Linked DNA regions of Homo sapiens: all the other regions are linked to region 1. Evidence: fine-mapped expression QTL. A gene starts in region 1. Each other region holds a variant in brackets. All regions are shown on one strand. Distances are from middle to middle.

What was found. PIP is the estimated chance that this variant, and not a neighbour inherited with it, causes the effect.
Region 2: its variant is the best candidate, but not a certain one, in a credible set for the expression of SYPL2 in tibial nerve (GTEx, PIP 0.74).
Region 3: its variant is the best candidate, but not a certain one, in a credible set for the expression of SYPL2 in thyroid (GTEx, PIP 0.86).

What each region holds. Positions count from the first base shown.
Region 1 is chr1:109,464,036-109,470,523 of GRCh38, reverse strand. It overlaps SYPL2 (synaptophysin like 2), which reads right to left and starts at 3,978. Exons shown (of 6, transcript NM_001040709.2): 1 at 3,627-3,978; 2 at 3,391-3,465. The coding sequence starts at 3,680. RefSeq lists enhancers at 3,546-4,045, 4,046-4,547.
Region 2 is chr1:109,503,614-109,508,936 of GRCh38, reverse strand. It overlaps AMIGO1 (adhesion molecule with Ig like domain 1), which reads left to right. Exons shown (of 2, transcript NM_020703.4): 2 at 1-4,759. The coding sequence starts at 25. The coding sequence ends at 1,506. Among named protein-coding and RNA genes, the nearest start is that of AMIGO1, 3.5 kb to the left of the region's middle. The variant C/G (reference allele first, on the strand shown) is at 2,356.
Region 3 is chr1:109,366,146-109,372,633 of GRCh38, reverse strand. SORT1 (sortilin 1) reads left to right here. Exons shown (of 20, transcript NM_002959.7): 2 at 3,045-3,104; 3 at 5,153-5,226. Among named protein-coding and RNA genes, the nearest start is that of SORT1, 29 kb to the left of the region's middle. The variant T/C (reference allele first, on the strand shown) is at 3,205.

The DNA.
Region 1 (6,488 bases):
CAGCGACGGTCATTTTCTGCCCTCCGCCTCCTCTTGCTTCTGCATCTCTTTTGCAACCTTAAACCTTTCCAGTTTAAGGATGAGGCTCCCCTTTGGCACTGACATGCTCGCTGGTGATAATCCTGTGACAGTCCTGAGGACACTAACATCACCAGTTAGCTCAGAGCACAAGGAAGACAAATTCTCTCCCCAGGTCCTACTCCCACGCTTATCTCATTGTTTTTTGTTTTGTTTAGGCGAGGTAACAGGCTCATGCCTGTAATCTCAGCACTTTTGGAGGCTGAGGTGGGAATATCACCTGAGCCCAGGAACTCAAAGCCAGCTGGGGCAGCATAGCAAGACCCGATTTTTACAAAAATTTTTTACAACTTAGCTAGGCATGGTGGCATGTGCCTTTGGTCCCAGATACTTGAAAGGCTGAGGTGGGAGGATTGCCTGAGCTTGGAAATTTAGGCTGCAGTGAGATGTGTTCGTACCACTGCACTCCAGCCTCAGCGATAGAGCCAGTCTCTATCTTAGAGCCTGTCTGAAAAAAAAAAAAGATTTGATATTTACTCACTCAAGGTTCCAGAGCTAGAAAGCAAGAAAGCAGAGGGGACTCAATTTAAACCGAAGCCTATCTGACCTCAAAAATCTGTCTCTATCTTCCTTTTTCTTTTGTTTTATTTTCCTTTTTTTTTTTTTTTTTTTTTTTTTGAGACAAGGTCTAGTTCTGTCACTCAGGCTGGAGTGCGCAGCTCATTGCAGCCTCGACCTCCTGGGCTCAATGATCCTCCAGCCTCAGCCTCCCAAGGAGCTGGGACCACAAGCATGTGTCATCACACCCAACTAATTTTATTTTTTAATAGAGACGCGACCTCCCCTTATTGCCCAGGCTTGTGTCAAACTCCTGGGCTCAAGCAATCCTCCCACCTCAGCCTCCCAAAGTGTGTCTTTTTCTTAAAAAGAAAATTTTTTTTAAGATACTTCTTTTCTTTTCTTTTTTATCTTGAACTCCTATGATTTGATGTCCTTTTCTTTTTTAAAAAAAAACTAGTTCTCCAATAATTGGTCTATGTCCAGGTTATTTTTGCTAGCTTAGTATAGACTTAGTGAGACTCCAGAATTGGAATTGAGGTGAGATTAGTTGATTTCTCAATTAAAAAAAAAAAAACTCTAAGATAAGCTCCTGACAAATAAAAGAATAACATTACTTTCTTTTCACAAAGATTCCAGTAAAATCTTTGCTTTTTGGTAATAATGACAACAAAAGTTCTCAATTACCATTACAATAACTGCAAGCTTTGTGTTTTCTTTTTTCCTTCTCCAATCAGGAGCATTTGATCCCTCCAAACAGGAAATGAGTGAAAAACTCAAATGACATTTCCACTGTCATTTCTGGTGCTAATGCCTGTTTACTTTTTATGTTACCTCATCTGCAGAGCTTCAAAGCAAGTGAAACTGGCGCCCTGAATTCAGGCTACCTGGGATGGCAATAAAAGCAAAGCACGTTTCTTTGTGATGCTACCCTGTGAATGAAATCTGAATTCAGAGTCTAGCCCAGGGCCCAGGTTTTAGCATTCTGAGAGAAAAGGGTCTCTGTTTTGCACAACCCCCTTTCTAAGTACTTGAAGATCATAAAAGTCTATCAGATCTTAATTCCTAGGTCATTAGTGCTGACCCCAAGACTGCATCATTTCCCTGGGCATTGCTTTGTACAGCCTTTACAGAAATGTTGTGGGTATTTGGAGTGCTGCGTGGAGGGAAGGATGGCAGGATTGAAGAAGGAAGCTTTTCAGAATCCCTCCAAGGGAGAGGAGTCCATGGTCTAATAACCTCATTGTTTCCCTTATCCTTTGACAGTCTGTCTCAAATTCTGTTGGATCCATTTGTCTAATTTAATGGTAAAATTGCTTATAATGGCTCTTCCAGTTCTGGATGCCAGTCACTCAGAGCCTTAATATCATTTTTATATGGCTCCCTCTGGCACTTGAGTGGTGGATCAGAACAGGGAAGGGGCCAAAGGCAAAAGAGCTCAATCAGCAATTGGTCTAACCACTCTTGAGGCAGTAAGAAAGGTGGAGAGTCCCCACCAGGTCCCAGAGTTTGCACTTGGGAGCTCCCAGGCTGGCCCGATAATCCCAAATGCACTTTTGCCCCTGGGTTCCAGATTTGATTATTCTCATCCAAACCATGATTTAAGAACTGGTGTCACAGTGCTAATTCTTGTCTCCAAAGCCCTGTAGAACTCAATCCTCCTCAGTATTAATGGTAACTTATTCCCTAGCTGAATTCTGTACTGAGAGCACATTAATTAAGTTATTCACACACCATTTGGTATGTGGATTGTCTAATTTAAAATCTCTTCTGCAATAGTGCACTAAATGCCCCCTACAAGTCTTTATGATTTGAGAAATTGACTGCACCTGTCCACATTCCTAATTTATACCCAGGAGGCCTTAGGCACTGGCCTAGTGAAGCAAGATAGTATTTCCACTAGACTGTAACAGGGGAAACTGAGGACCTGAGCAAGTGACTTTTTCAAGGTCACAAAGTAAGTCTAACCTAGGGCCATATTCTGGCACACCAAACTATTTAGAGCATAAGGAGACCCTAGGAAGGTTCTGATCAACATCTAACTAGTGTTGGAAATTGAAGTCCAGAGAAATGAATTGCCCAAGGTGACATAGCTGGAAAAGGCCAGTCTAGGTCTGGATCCCAGGGCCCCAGCTTCTCAGATCAGTGTTCCATTTTATTCTACATGCCACATTTTAGCCATGCCGTGATTTTTATTCTTATTTTTTTCTTTTATTTAATCATAGAACCACAAGCTCCGTTCATTCATTCATCCACTCCCTCACTCATTTACAGGAACTCGGATTACTCCAGTGACCTCAAAAGGGAACGGCGAGCCGAGAGCCTGTCCCCTGAGCCCAGTACTTGCAGGATCATCCAGGCCCTGGTGGGTTTGGGGGCAGGACGGTTTCCATCGCCTGCTTCCTTCCCTCCTTTGCCCTCTGCGGCTTCCCTCTTGGTGAAGAGCGGACCTCGTCCCCGTCGTCCTTCTCCCCCCTCCCGTCACCAAGGAGTGGTATGTGCAGGATCAGAGTTCTGGAAAGGTTACACCCGGGTCCTCTCGCCCGGGTGAAATGTGAGCGCCCTGGGCAAAGGCTCCTTGCACATAGAAGGACCGAATCCGGGACTCCGCATGCCTCGCTCTTCACCCTCCTGCCACTAAGTCCGGAGAAGCAGCCCCAGCCCGCCCCTCCCCCGCCCACCTGTCGCCGCCCCCCACCCTTCCGCCGTGGCCCGGCCGCAGCACCTCCCCAGCCCCCACCCTGGCTCCATTGCTTCAGGTCAGCGTCACAGCCCAGGCTCCCGAAATAGCCCGGGGCCGGGGCAGCGACTCACCCACTGGAGAACTTTGATGAAGCCCAGCGGCTCCTCCAGCCGCCGCCAGCGCAGCCCCACGAGTAGGCGGTCCACCTGCGGAGACACAGCCGGCCGGGGGGTCAGGGCGGTGGGGAACCCTGGGAAGGCGCTGGTCCCCTTGCCCCACTCACACGCGGTCCAGGGGTGGGATAAGTGTGCAGCCCGACATCTAGGTGGAGAGGGGCGGGTGAGAGTCCTGGGCGCGCAGGGACTACCTGCTGGCGCGGCGACTTGTCCGCCGTGCGGCCGGCGCTCTCGGTCGAGGACATGCTGGCGCGGCGAGCGCTGGGCGCGGCGTGGTGGCTTGGCTCTCTGGCCGGGAGGCGGCGGACACGGCGGGGGAGCGGGGAGCTGCAGGTCCGGGGCAGAGCAGGCGAGCGGGGCCGGAGCGCGAGCGGCCGTCGGTGGGCCGGAGTCCAGTCTGGCTGGCTGGCTGGCTGGGACGCGGGGGCGCTGCTGTTCGTGCTCTCAGAGGCTGCGGCCGCCGCGGTGCCCCGCCGGCAGCAGAAAGCCCCCGACTCGGATTCAAACTTCTGTCAAACTCGCAGCGAACTTGGCCGCCGGGTCACGTGGCGTGCGCTCCCGAACCCTCCTCCCGCCCCCTCTGCTCCCTTTCTCCGCTCGCCGGGCACCTTAAAGGGACCAGAGGCCTCCGTGGTTAGTTCCGCCGCGGGGCGGGGGGGACTCCGGGTCCTCCTCGCCGAAGCCTCCGGGACCGGTCCCCACCGAGACACCGCGGCCGTCGGAAACCCTAGCCAGGCGCACCTGGACGCACAGGCTTCAGGTTTATCCTTCCCTATTTTCCTGGATTGCAAACTGCCCAGCGCCGGTTTTTCTCCTCTTCCATACCAGAATATCCAGAACGTAAAAGATTCTCAAAAGGCACGATCAGGGCTGTGAAACAAGGTTCTAAGCCTCACGATTAACATACCGCCAGTACCGACAAAAGGGCGATAGAATATAAGCTGCTGATTTTTTATCCTGTCTAGCTAGGTATTGTTTTGATTTTTTTTTAAAACAACAAAAGACATTTGTATGTTAGTGATTTAAAAGTTATTGGCCAGGCTTGGTGGCTCACGCCTGCAATCCCAGCACTTTGGGAGGCCGAGGCCAGAAGATCACGAGGTCAGGAGTTCGAGACCAGTCTGGCCAACATAGTGAAACCCCGTCTCTACTAAAAATACAAAAAATTAGCCGGGTGTGGTGATGTGCGCCTGTAATCCCAGCTACTCAGGAGGCTGAGGCAGGAGAATTGCTTGAACCCGGGAGGTGGAAGTTGCAGTGAGCCGAGATCGCGCCATTGCACTCCAGCCCTGGCGACAGTCCAAGACTCTGTCTCCAAAAAAAAAGTTATTAATCTTTAACAAGTAGAAACTTAATCTCCTTTAAAATGGTCATTACCATTTAAATGAGAGTGAAAAAAGGTCTTTGAGGAATGAGGCGCAAAGAATATATTGAAACGTACTGAAAAGTTGACGTCTGGCTAGGCGCGGTGGCTCAAGCCTGTAATCCCAGCACTTTGGGAGGCGGAGGCGGGTGTATCACTTGAAGCCAGGAGTTCGAGACCAGCCTGGCCAACATGGTGAAACCCTGTCTCTATTAAAAATACAAAAATTAGCAGGGCGTGGTGGCACGTGCCTGTACTCCTAGCTACTCCGAAGGGTAAGGCACGAGAATTACTTGAACCCGGGAGGCGGAGGTTGCAGTGAGCCGAGATTGCACCACTGCACTCCAGCCTGGACAACAGAGCAAGACTGTGTCAAAAAAAAGAAAAAAAGAAAAAGAAAAAAGGCAGACAGAAGTGGGGAGAGAGAGAGAGGAAAAAAAAAGAAAGAAAAAGAACGGGAAGGGAAGGGAAGAAGGGAAGGGAAGGGACTGGTTGGGTTGAAGTCGTTGCATTTTTTTAACTGTAACTTGGTCTCTAACTTTTGAAAAGCATTTGGCAGGGGTGAGCAGTTGAGAATATTCCACACTTGGTTTACGAGAGCATAAATATAAGTAGTAAAAGGTTAAGTGATTTGTCCAAGGACAAATTCCTGTGCACTGGCTTGTAAATATGTATCCGTCTCATCCAAGTCATTCCTGCAGGTCCGCCCCCCCAACCGCTCCCCCCAGCACATCAGAATGAATGCCTTTTGAACAAACATTTGGCTATTATCTATACAAGTCGCTTCCCTATTGAGTAAGTGCCTTCCCAGAGCCTTGGGATTTAGAGAGAGACGTGAGGAAGGCAGCTCGGGCTGGATCAGGCCACATGGACTTGAAGGAAACTTCTCCAGTGGATTTCCATGCAAATCTAGACTAAGCAAGGAACAGCTTAGCCCAGTCCCCAGTCCACAGTTTAAAAATTGTTCTGCCGTCTTAGGTTCCTGTTCTATGGAATAGGGATAATAATTTATGTTCCACTCACTTCACGAAGCTGTCATAAAAATTAAATAGTGTGATATATGTGAATGCCACACTACACAAACACAAAAACATACACATTACCAATGTCTTCAACAATATACATACAGAATACAACACAATCAAAAAAGAATCAGAATAACACAACAAAAATCCACTTACACACCAACCAGCCTTGTTAATCTTTAACTCTTTTTTGTCTCAAATCCATTATTTTCTTTAAATCCATTCTTTAAAAAAGAAAAAAATGCATAAAATTGAAAACCTGTATATCACCTCATGTCACTCCCTCCCTCCTTCCTCCCCAGAAATATCCATTATCCAATTCTGAATTTGTTTTTTTATCAGTCTCATGCATGGTTTACTACTTTTTCTATGTATATAACTATAGGAGCAATACCTAGAAACCCATCAGATGTAGTATTGTTTTTCAAATTGCTTTAAACTTTATCTAAATGGTATCATGCTTTAGGTAACCTTCTTCAACTCACTTTTTTACTTAATGTTGTGTTTGTGAGAGTCATCTAGCCTGATGCCTGTAGCTTTAGTTCATTCCTTTTAGCTATATAGAATTCTATTACATACATACGCATACTGCAGTCTATTTATTCTCATATTGATGGGCATTTAGGTTGTTTCCAAAGATTCTCTCTTACAAACAGCGCTGCACT
Region 2 (5,323 bases), 39 kb before region 1:
TTCCTCGCCCACTCCAGTGACACTATGCACCCCCACCGTGACCCGAGAGGCCTCTGGCTCCTGCTGCCGTCCTTGTCCCTGCTGCTTTTTGAGGTGGCCAGAGCTGGCCGAGCCGTGGTTAGCTGTCCTGCCGCCTGCTTGTGCGCCAGCAACATCCTCAGCTGCTCCAAGCAGCAGCTGCCCAATGTGCCCCATTCCTTGCCCAGTTACACAGCACTACTGGACCTCAGTCACAACAACCTGAGCCGCCTGCGGGCCGAGTGGACCCCCACGCGCCTGACCCAACTGCACTCCCTGCTGCTGAGCCACAACCACCTGAACTTCATCTCCTCTGAGGCCTTTTCCCCGGTACCCAACCTGCGCTACCTGGACCTCTCCTCCAACCAGCTGCGTACACTGGATGAGTTCCTGTTCAGTGACCTGCAAGTACTGGAGGTGCTGCTGCTCTACAATAACCACATCATGGCGGTGGACCGGTGCGCCTTCGATGACATGGCCCAGCTGCAGAAACTCTACTTGAGCCAGAACCAGATCTCTCGCTTCCCTCTGGAACTGGTCAAGGAAGGAGCCAAGCTACCCAAACTAACGCTCCTGGATCTCTCTTCTAACAAGCTGAAGAACTTGCCATTGCCTGACCTGCAGAAGCTGCCGGCCTGGATCAAGAATGGGCTGTACCTACATAACAACCCCCTGAACTGCGACTGTGAGCTCTACCAGCTGTTTTCACACTGGCAGTATCGGCAGCTGAGCTCCGTGATGGACTTTCAAGAGGATCTGTACTGCATGAACTCCAAGAAGCTGCACAATGTCTTCAACCTGAGTTTCCTCAACTGTGGCGAGTACAAGGAGCGTGCCTGGGAGGCCCACCTGGGTGACACCTTGATCATCAAGTGTGACACCAAGCAGCAAGGGATGACCAAGGTGTGGGTGACACCAAGTAATGAACGGGTGCTAGATGAGGTGACCAATGGCACAGTGAGTGTGTCTAAGGATGGCAGTCTTCTTTTCCAGCAGGTGCAGGTCGAGGACGGTGGTGTGTATACCTGCTATGCCATGGGAGAGACTTTCAATGAGACACTGTCTGTGGAATTGAAAGTGCACAATTTCACCTTGCACGGACACCATGACACCCTCAACACAGCCTATACCACCCTAGTGGGCTGTATCCTTAGTGTGGTCCTGGTCCTCATATACCTATACCTCACCCCTTGCCGCTGCTGGTGCCGGGGTGTAGAGAAGCCTTCCAGCCATCAAGGAGACAGCCTCAGCTCTTCCATGCTTAGTACCACACCCAACCATGATCCTATGGCTGGTGGGGACAAAGATGATGGTTTTGACCGGCGGGTGGCTTTCCTGGAACCTGCTGGACCTGGGCAGGGTCAAAACGGCAAGCTCAAGCCAGGCAACACCCTGCCAGTGCCTGAGGCCACAGGCAAGGGCCAACGGAGGATGTCGGATCCAGAATCAGTCAGCTCGGTCTTCTCTGATACGCCCATTGTGGTGTGAGCAGGATGGGTTGGTGGGGAGATTCTGCCCCAGGAGAGGTAATGCACCCCTGAAGGATATGAGGGGATGGAAGAGAGGGCTGGCTGCCCAAGGGAATGGATTCCTCCTGACCTCAAGGGAATTGGTCCCAGGTACAACAGAGAGCAAGACCCCAAACAGGGCGTGGCTGCCACGATTTTCAAATGGGGGTATATTAATCCTCAGGCAAATGCTACACCCGTACCCAAAGCCCTGCCAATTCTCAGTGTGGTAGAGGAAGAGAAGCATGTCTGAGTTGGATGGGAATGAGGAAGGAGTGAGGGGAAGAACAGATTCCCTAAACTTTCATGAGGTCATCCCTAGCTCCTTAAGAGAAAAACATTTAGAAAAAAAAATTTTTTCTATCTCTGCCCACCCACACCTGTGATGTTGTGTGTGTTGGGGGAGCTTCCACAGGAGCCACACTGGGGAAAAGCTGTAGTATCTTCTTTGTTTAGCAAGTCAAACTTCACAGCTGGGGAAGTTGAAAACCTTTGGAAAATGAGTCAGGAAAAGGCTGAGACCTCAATCGGTAACAATTCCCCAAAGCTGTTGTAAGACTTTGCATTAAAGCCTTCCTTTTTCCTGATGTGCCCTGGGTGGATGGATCTTTGCAGGAGCCTGGCCTGCTGCCTTTTAGTTACAACAGCAATGTGGGATGTGGTATCTGTGCCTTGTCCTGGGACCAATGGCACAGAGGGTTATAGCATGAACTGAAGGGTCCATGTCACAGCATAGGTGCCAGCACGAAACTTGTAGATGGGGGGTGAATTCCAGATAGGCTAATTCCCTGGTTGGTGAAACCCTTGGTTAGTATTTGATTCCCAGCAT[C/G]TGTGTGTCAGGCCAGAGTGGGGGCTGCTGAAGGCAGAGCTTTTATGGATGCCTGCCACAGACGTGGTACATGGGCCCACTTCACGATAGAAGGATGAAGGTAAATCAGCCTCTATTATGTAGCATCCAGCTGGACCTAGCTGATTCTCAATGTATGCCATCTCTTCATCCAGTCTCCTTATCAAGCTCAGGTGGGATTCTGAATTTTCCCTAATATGCTGCTCTGTAAAGGGAGGAGTCCAAGAAAGCCTGGCCCCAGCTGGCTTAGAGTAGGCTTGGCGATAGTGAAAATCCAGTATATATCTCCTCTGTGTGGACAAGGTTGCCTTGCTCCTCTCAGAGATACCACCTCTGCTGCAAAGTCAAAGCATGGGGTTTTGACATCAGAAGGGTTGGAATTGGGTGGTCTCTACCCCAGAATGGCAATTTGGAGTGCAGCTTCAAGTTCTGCCCTCTCCACAGATTCCAGGCAATCCTGAAGCAGAGATAATCAGTAGTACTAAACTTTCAGAAGGGGAGTTCTGCCACCCCATTCCTCCATCGAGAGGTCTTTGCAGTTGTGGTTGTGAGGCCAGAGGAACTTAAGAAGAATGAGCTCAACATTCCATTCCATCCAAGGTTGCAGAATACTTTGAGTATGGAGATGACCGATCCCTTTAACCTTTCCCTTTGACTACACTGCATGCCCTGTGAGTGGCTGCTCTGAGCTTTGGCGGGGGATGAGCAGGGTGAAGGTGAAAATGTTCTCTGATGTTGGTTTTTCTTAGGGTCTCTTCTCTCCCACGTTTCTAGTCCATTGGAAGTTCTCCAGATCCTCTAGATTTCTGACCTCTTTTTACATTCTAAGAGGTGTCATTTACCTGTGGGTGAGGGGCTTGGAGGGCCTGACTATTAAGCTTCCTATTATGATTGGGGAAGGGGACTCAACATCTTCCCCTTGTCTGGTCCTGGGAACTCAAGACTGCTGTCCATCCTTTATTAGTAACCTAGTTTTGTTGAGAGAGAGGTGCAGCATTTCCCTCAAGTACCTGCATGCTCATAGGTATGCATGCTTATAGGTATGCATGCACACCAGCACCTTGACTTCCACCAGGACAGTGAATCTGTAGTCCCCATTAATGATACTCTCAGAATGGTCTCCACCAATGTGCACAACTTCATGCACACAATTGTATTCCTCTTTAGGAGAGACAGTGACCATGCCAGGCTCTTCAAATACACACTCCTGTATTTTCATTTCTGAACTCCCTGAAGCTTCACCCACATCTCCATGGCACTGAATCACTTTTCTGCCCAGGCTGGAGTTAGAAGAACCATGGGTTGAAGGCCTTGGGAGAAGAGGTGGTAAGGAGCTACCTGGTTCTTTGGACTCCTCAGAAACCTCCCGTGAAGACTATATATATGAGCAATATATGAGCAATTAAGATAGAACTAGGTCATTGAAGGACTCAGAAGGAAACTGGCAAGGGGCTAAGTAGCTGTGAGCTGCTCTTCCTGTTAACTGTCCTCAGGAGAGAAAAGTTGTCTTGATTTATTCCAGAGACTCCTGAGAATTTTGTTACTGGAGCTATAGGAACTAGGACTCCCTCCTCAGACTCATCAGGAAATCTGGGAAAATCTCATCTCCATGCTGCAGTCTCCCCGCTTGGCACCATCTAGGGCTCTGAAGATCTTTAAAGTGAGCGTTAAATGAAGCAGGCCTTCTGGGGCATCGTGATGGAGCTCCTGAGGACTGGGAGGGCCGTTTTCTTCATAATTCCTACCCAGTTTAGGGAATGAGAAAAGGCCCTGTGGCTCTTAAGTCTCCTGACTATATCCACTAGTTTGGCCTTGAGTTTGAGACACCTGGTAGATGTACCTGGCTGCCCTACCAAGAGATTTGATTTGTTTCTTCCCGTGGTTTCAGGTGATAGAACCCAAAGGTAGCTTTTTAATTGGAGAATTGAATAATCAGCATATGTAAGCGCACTAGAACCCTGTGTTGAAAACTGCCAGGTGTGGGTATAAGAAAAGGCCGAGAGATCACCACCTCCTCTTACCCTACCCCACACCCATAAACCAGACATGTCTCCCAGGAAGCAGGTGTCCCTGGAGACAGAGGATGACAGGGCTCTACAATCTGTGTAATTATTATTATTATTATTATTTTGTATTTATGGGGCCCAAGAAAGGGGCCAGGAGAGGGTACACCCCAGCTGGGGAGAGCAAAGCAGATGGATCCAGTTTTCTGTGTGTTCTTACCTCTGTACTTCCTCGTAGCTCTGCTGACAAAGCAAGCAGGCCTCCCGTGTCCAAGACCCCATTCCTCCCACTTGTGTACACCTAGGCTGGCAAATCTTGGAGCCTCTGGGCTCTGAAAACTAGACAATGATCATTAAACCTGGCTTGAGTCTCTGTTCTGGCACAATCTGACTGGTTTATTTTTTCAGCCTGTGGGTGGGGTTCACTGTACCTCAGAAGGGTGTGTCCTATCTAGGAAGAAAATCTTTAAGTGCTATTGTACGGACATGGGTGAAATACACATCTAGGCATTAAGATGGACCGGGGTCAGCAAACATTTTCCCTAACGAGCCAGATAGTAAATATTTTAGGCTCTGCAGACCACACAGTCTCTGTTACAACTCAGCTGTGCTGCTATAGCTTGAGTGTAGCCACAGACAGGACAAAAATGAATGACTGTGGCTGTGGTCCAAAAAAGATTTGACTTATGGACATTGAAATTTGAATTTCATATTTTAACATGCCTTTTGAGTTTTTCCAAGCATTAAAAAATATATAAACTAGGCCGGGCGCGGTGGCTCACGCCTGTAATCCCAGCACTTTGGGAGGCCGAGACAGGTGGATCACAAGGTCAGGAGATCGAGACCATCTTGGCTAACACGGTGAAACCCCGTCTCCACTAAAAATACAAAAAATTAGCCGGGTGTGGTGGTGGGCGCCTGTAGTCCCAGCTACGCAGGAGGCTGAG
Region 3 (6,488 bases), 98 kb after region 1:
TCTGTGTTTTTGTTTTGTTTTGTTTTGTTTTTTATTAGCTGTTTCCGGTAGAAAGGTAAATGTGATCCCTGTCACTCCATCTTGACCAGAAGCAGAAGTCCACCCAGAAATGAACTTTTACATTTCATACTCATGTCTGTCATGGGGAAGTTAAGTGGGCCTGGCCTTATCCTTTTACTTGGGCGTCATCTTTTTCAAAACTTCATAAGTAGTTCTTAAAGAATTCAATATTTATTGCGTGCCCACTGTGCACTATGCTGTGTGTTAGCTGCTGAAATGTATGGGCTTGATTCCTTTACCAGATGGACCTCAGGTCTAGTGGGGAGGACAGGCAAGGTTCTTGTGGCTACAATTAAAAGTGCTGTAATACATATTTTGAAAGATCTAAGATGCCACTGCAGTGTAGAATGACATGTACGTTGTCTTAAATATTAGAAATGATTCTGGATTAGGATTGATGGCTTTGTGCTGACTTGTGAATTCTGTCTCCTAACCATGACCAGGTTGTCTGCCCTTTCCTGGACATCCGTATTTTTTTCTCCCATTGAAGTGGCAGGATTGAATCTGTACTCTTGGGTCCCTAGCTCTCCTGGATTTATCTCCTTTCCATATGACCTTTTCTTTCTGCTTAACCTTTGGGCCTGCTGTAACATCTCATTTCATTTTTCTTTTTTAACTTTCACCAGTATAAGAATGTTAGAGACTGAAATATTAAAAAATTAATTACATTTGCTATAGGTAGATGAGTTTTTCAGTGAGTTTGCCCATTTTCAAAAGCAAATCTTCATTGGTTATTTGGAGTGGGTGGGAGGGACAGCTTAAGGGCAGTAGAAAACCACAGTTTTGCTAGTAAATCTGGCCTACATTTCCAAAGGAACTCTTTGGATGATGAGTGAGGTCCATTACCATTTCAGTTGTTTCAGTGAAGCTGAGAGTTGCCGGTGACACGTGATAATCCTCCTCATTCTGTAGTTGAGCAATAGGAAAATGTGGGTAATGCCAGTCTGCATTGACTGGGTCGGCTGTGTAGAGCATTGCCTGAAAAGTAAAAGTTGCAGTCCTGATTGGCTCAAGACTGATATCTTACAGCCTGATGAAGACAACCACGAATTCCAGTGCCATAACTGATGGACTTTTTCTTTTCTCTTAGTTATGACAAGGACCTTCCTTGGAAAGATAACCTGTGTTTAGATGACTGTGATCTTAGCCCTTGTGATCTGCCTGGTGCTTGTGGTAGCTCTGGATGTTCCTGTTTTTCCTGAAGGACCTCATTGATGTCATTTCAGACACTATCCTCACTCAAGAGAATGTGAGGTTTTGCTATGTGTGAAATATCATATAAGACACACTGCTATGTCAGTTTTTAAGCCTCTGGTTTCAGAAGCTCTGGCAGCCCTACTTTTTCTCAGATGCCTGGCAAGCCTGCATGTCTGAATAGCCCTTCTTTCCTGCAGAGGCTGTGAGAAGCTCTGCCGAGCATTTGAGAGTTAACCATTATTTACGGAGCAAGACCTGCGTGAGGCACTGATTGTACTAACTTACAAAAATTGTGTAAGAGATTCTTTTGACATCAAAGGTACTTACGGTCCAGAGGGGAAATCACATACGTGAATTCGGAAGCCCATTCAAGACTGCAAGAGAAAATTCGAAGATAAACAAAACAGTTCATGTTTTGAGTTCTGTTTCTTTAGATTTCTATGTGGGATTGGTGGCTTGAGTGACCAAGTAGCTGGCATCCCAACCATTTATAGACATGTTCTATTTTGAGGTTGAGTTTGTGGTTTGGGGAGGATGTGTAATCATTTTCAACAAATGCTTACTGAGTGTGCAAAGTATTCCTGTGGAAGGCACAGGGAGTACCAAGAAGTATAAAGTTACATTCCCCAGCTTCCAAGGAGCTTCTCATATCTGGGAGGGCAAGGCATGTTTAAGATTTTAAAATCTTAGTAAGATTATAAGTCTTAAGAAAAAAGCATAATCATCCACATTTATTAGAAATATATACTGAACTATTAAACTGTCTAAGAAATGGGGCTTGGGTGGTGAGCATGTGGCCTGGAAAAGAGAAGGATCTTCACTCTTTGCTATATAGACTCTATATAGTATGTAATTTCTATATGGTTTGAAATTTTTGCCAAGTGCAGTTATTACCTCTTTGGAATTTTTATTTTTTTTATCAGTTACAAAAATTATAGAGAACAGACGATTGTATTAATACATATAATATTAACCTTGAATATCTCTATGTGGTAGGATTATGAGTGACTTATCTTTATTATGCGTTCTTATAATTGTCTACATCTTCTTTAATGAATATATATTATTGTATAAGTAGAGAAAGGAAGTATTTGAAAAACAAAACCCAAAACCACCTACAATGATTATTATAACTATATTTTAACATGCTTACTATATTTTGGATATAATATACCAGCTTTCCCTTTTTTACCTCCTTACTCTCACTGCAACTCTAGTAAGGTTGTTTTATTATTATCATTATTACTATTGTTATTAAATAAAAAGGTGAAACAAAGGCATTTGCTTCTTGCTTCTGCCCGTTGTCATTTTTGAGTGAGCTAGACTAGAAGTAAAAGGAATCCAGTTACGAACTTTTCAGCTATACTGTAAAGGATGCCCAGAAAAATTTAAATTATGTTGATTTGGTTACAATTACGCCTGCCAGTGTGGGCTATGATCTTTTGTTTTAAAGCATCCTAAAAATACTTTGCTATACCTTTATATTTAGTTCTGTTGGAGAAAGCAATTAGATTGTCCCATCTCCCATCTCCCCATCTGGTGCAGTAAAGAAAACTCATCTGCTTGGCTTACTTTGTGTTAGAGAGAATTTAAATTTCCAAGTTATTTGTGATTCACATTAAGTAGTTAAATCCCATCCCTCCCAAATTTTGTACTGGGAATCCATACCCACTTTGTAATTATGAACTTAATTACTCTGAACAGTAATAAAGTTCAGATATTTAAAGAAGCCAAAGATTGAAGGAGAGTGGCTGTCATTTCTAAATTAATTTTTTTTCCCCTTATAGCATGTGTTTGATGATCTCAGAGGCTCAGTATCCTTGTCCTGGGTTGGAGATAGCACTGGGGTAAGTCATATTTTGAGTCTGTTATTTCAGCCCAGCAAGAAGATGATAACAGATTTGGGGAAGGGTTAAGCACCTAATATCATTTCTTCCTGAAACTGTC[T/C]TTAGCCTCAATCACAGAAAACACATGTTTGCAAGACAGACTTTCAGGAAGTTGTAGTTGTGTTGGTTTTGCTTTAGAATTGGGAACATCTTTTTTGCGGGGGGGTGGGGACGGAGTTTCGCTCTTGTTGCCCAAGTTGGAGTGCGATGGCATGATCTCAGCTCACTGCAACCTCCACCTCCCGGGTTCAAGCGATTCTCCTGCCTCAGCCTCCCAAGGAGCTGGGATTACAGGCACCCACCACCATGCACAGCTGATTTTTTGTATTTTTAGTGAAGATGAGGTTTCACCATGTTGGCCAGGCTGGTCTTGAACGCCTGACCTCAGGTGATCCACGCGCCTCAGCCTCCCAAAAGTGCTGGGATTACAGGCATGAGCCACTGCGCCTGGCCGGGAACATCTTCTGACCACCTTCTTCCACGGTGGGAAGATGGACACCTTTTCAGTCCTTGGTGGCTGCTTAGCATCAAGATGAGCAAGAAGAAAGATGAAAGTGCTCTGTACTGAGAAGGGAAGCGCACAATGCTTGGGGAAACCCCTATATAGAAACAGAAAATGTCCATTAAAAACATCCTGGCACTTTTCCTCCAAATTGTATTGTTCCTGTGTCCTTTCCTACAGGTGTGTTGAGGGACTGTGGTGCCCATGGGCTCATGGTTGTTCATCTGTTGGTCCCTGCCCCTGCCACAAAGGAGGTACTGCCAGGATTGGGGGAATGGAAGGAGGATCAGTCAGCTCCTTATCCCTCCTGATATACAGCTGGGCTCCCACTAGGAGGACACGCTGAGGATACATTGGCCCCTGGTCTTAAATCAGGACTTGTTGCCTGGCTGTCTTATTATCCTGCTTGAACAAGAGCAGGGGCAACATCTCCTGCCCCCTGGTATTCCATAATGCATGTGTCATAGCATTGAGGCACATGATAGTTATATTAGAAGCCTAAAGAAATAAAATCTTGGTGCTGAAAAGCAAATTGTAAATTTCTTATTTTGATTAATTTTTAAACTTTCAGTAGAATTTCTTTAAGCATAGTTCAGTTTTTTCTAAAATTTGAGTTGTACCCTAATTTCCATGATTTACCCATTTATCTTAGATAGTTGGTATCTCCAAGAATTTTTTTTTTTTTTTTTTTTTTTGAGACAGAGTCTTGCTCTGTCACCCAGGCTGGAGAGCAGTGGTGCAATCTTGGCTCACAGCAACGTCCACCTCCCAGGTTCAAGCAATTCTCATGCCTCAGCCTCCCAAGAAGCTGGGACTACAGGCAAGCACCACCACGCCCGGCTAATTTTTGTATTTTAAGTAGAGATGGGGTTTCACCATGTTAGCCAGGCTAGTCTCGAACTTCTGACCTCAAGTGATCCGTCCGCCTCAGCCTCCCAAAGTGCTGTGATTACAGGCGTGAGCCACCGTGCCCAGCCATCTCCAAGATTTCTCATATGGCTTTCTGAGACTCCCTAGACTCTTATAGTAATCCATCCAGAATCATTTCCTCATGCATAGTTTTTGGTAGATAAGGTACTGAAAAAATGAATTTCATGAAGAACCAACGGCAAGGAGAAGAAAAAGACAGACATACATGACACAGTGATCTCTGTGAGAACACCCACGCTATTCTAGACTCTGTAAGGAGAAAAGGGAAGAGGGTTCTTGCCTGAGAGTATCTTACAATAATTTGGATACAAAATAGTTAAAGCCTTCTTTTATTTTAATGTGTATTTGAGTAGTCAGCCTCACTGCTTCAATGGAGGCAATGGGGATCATCCCAACAAAATGAGCTGAGGACTTTCTCATCATTCTCAGCCCTAGTAACTAGATCCTTCTAGACTTTGGGGAGTACTACAAAGTAGGGATATCAAAAGTCTTTTAGGTGTTGGCTTAATCTCGAACACATATCAGCATGTGATTGGAATATCTTTTTTATTTACGGAATGCTTTTTTCTCTCTCCAGGTCATTCTAGTCTTGACTACCTTCCATGTACCACTGGTAATTATGACTTTTGGACAGTCCAAGCTATATCGAAGGTGAGATCAATAACACGCGTTGGAGCATTTCACTAAGTAACATTGAGAATATAGATTCTCCCTTTTCTAGACATGATGGCACGTAACAGTTGATGTAAAAGATCTTCTAGCCATCCTAAGTTTTCACCAGACTGTCACACTCAGCACATGTTTTTGTTGTTGTTGTTGTTGTTGTTTTTTGAGACAGGGTCTCACTCTTGTCACCCAGGCTGGAGTGCAGTGGCGTCATCTTGGCTCACTGCAGCCTCCACCTCCCAGGCTCAAGCCATCCTCCCACTTCAGCCTCCCAGGTAGCTGGGACTGCAGGCACACGCTACCATGCCCAGCTAATTTTTTGTATTTTTTGTAGAGACAGGGTTTCCCCATGTTGCCTAGGCTTGTATTGAGCTCCTGGGTTCGAATGATCCACCTGCCTCCAAAAGTGCTGGGATTATAGGCGGGAGCCACTGCACCCGGCCCTTAGCACACTTTTTAACGTCTACTCTTTTTTTTTTTTTGAGCAGGGTCTAGCTCTGTCACTCAGGCTGGAGAGCAGTGGCGCAAACACAGCTCATTGCAACCTCTCCCTCCCAGGCTCAAGCCATCCACCATCTTCCCACCTCAGCCTCCCAAGTGGCTGGCATTACAGGCACGTACCTCCATGCCTGGGTAATTTTTGTATTTTGGATAGACAGGGTTTCACCATGTTGCCCAGTCTGGTATCGAGCGCCTGGGCTCAAGCTGTCTTCCCACCTCAGCCTCCCAAAGTGCTAGGATTACAGGTGTGAGCCACCATGCCTGGCCTTAGCATCTAATTAGCAACTGAAAGAAGTATGAAAAGGGACCTGGTTCCAAGGAGGTTGGTTTGACCTGACTCAGGGGCAGAACAATAAAGGAAGATGAAGAAAGAGTGTATAGTGCTGTGTGTTTGTGTTCATTTATATGGATATTTATTTGTGGGAAGGTAGTATGGGGTTTAAAAAGTCTTTCTATTTAGTGTGAGTACAAAATGGTTTTTTATATTCCTGAAATGAAAATCTTCATTGTACTTTCCCAGCAAATATTTATACAGCATTTTGAGGCCTAAGCAGATTATTTTTAGGTAAGAAGGAGGCTCTCAGGTCGGACCTACCAAAGTGCTTTGTAGTGTTCACACTGGCGATGATGGTGGTAACATGTGTTCTGGAACCACAACCTATACTGTGACATTGGTGAAGTTTTAGAGTTGTCTTCTCAAAGGTATGACTTGGTTAAAAAGTAGGTTCCGTTCCTTAGCAGTAAGA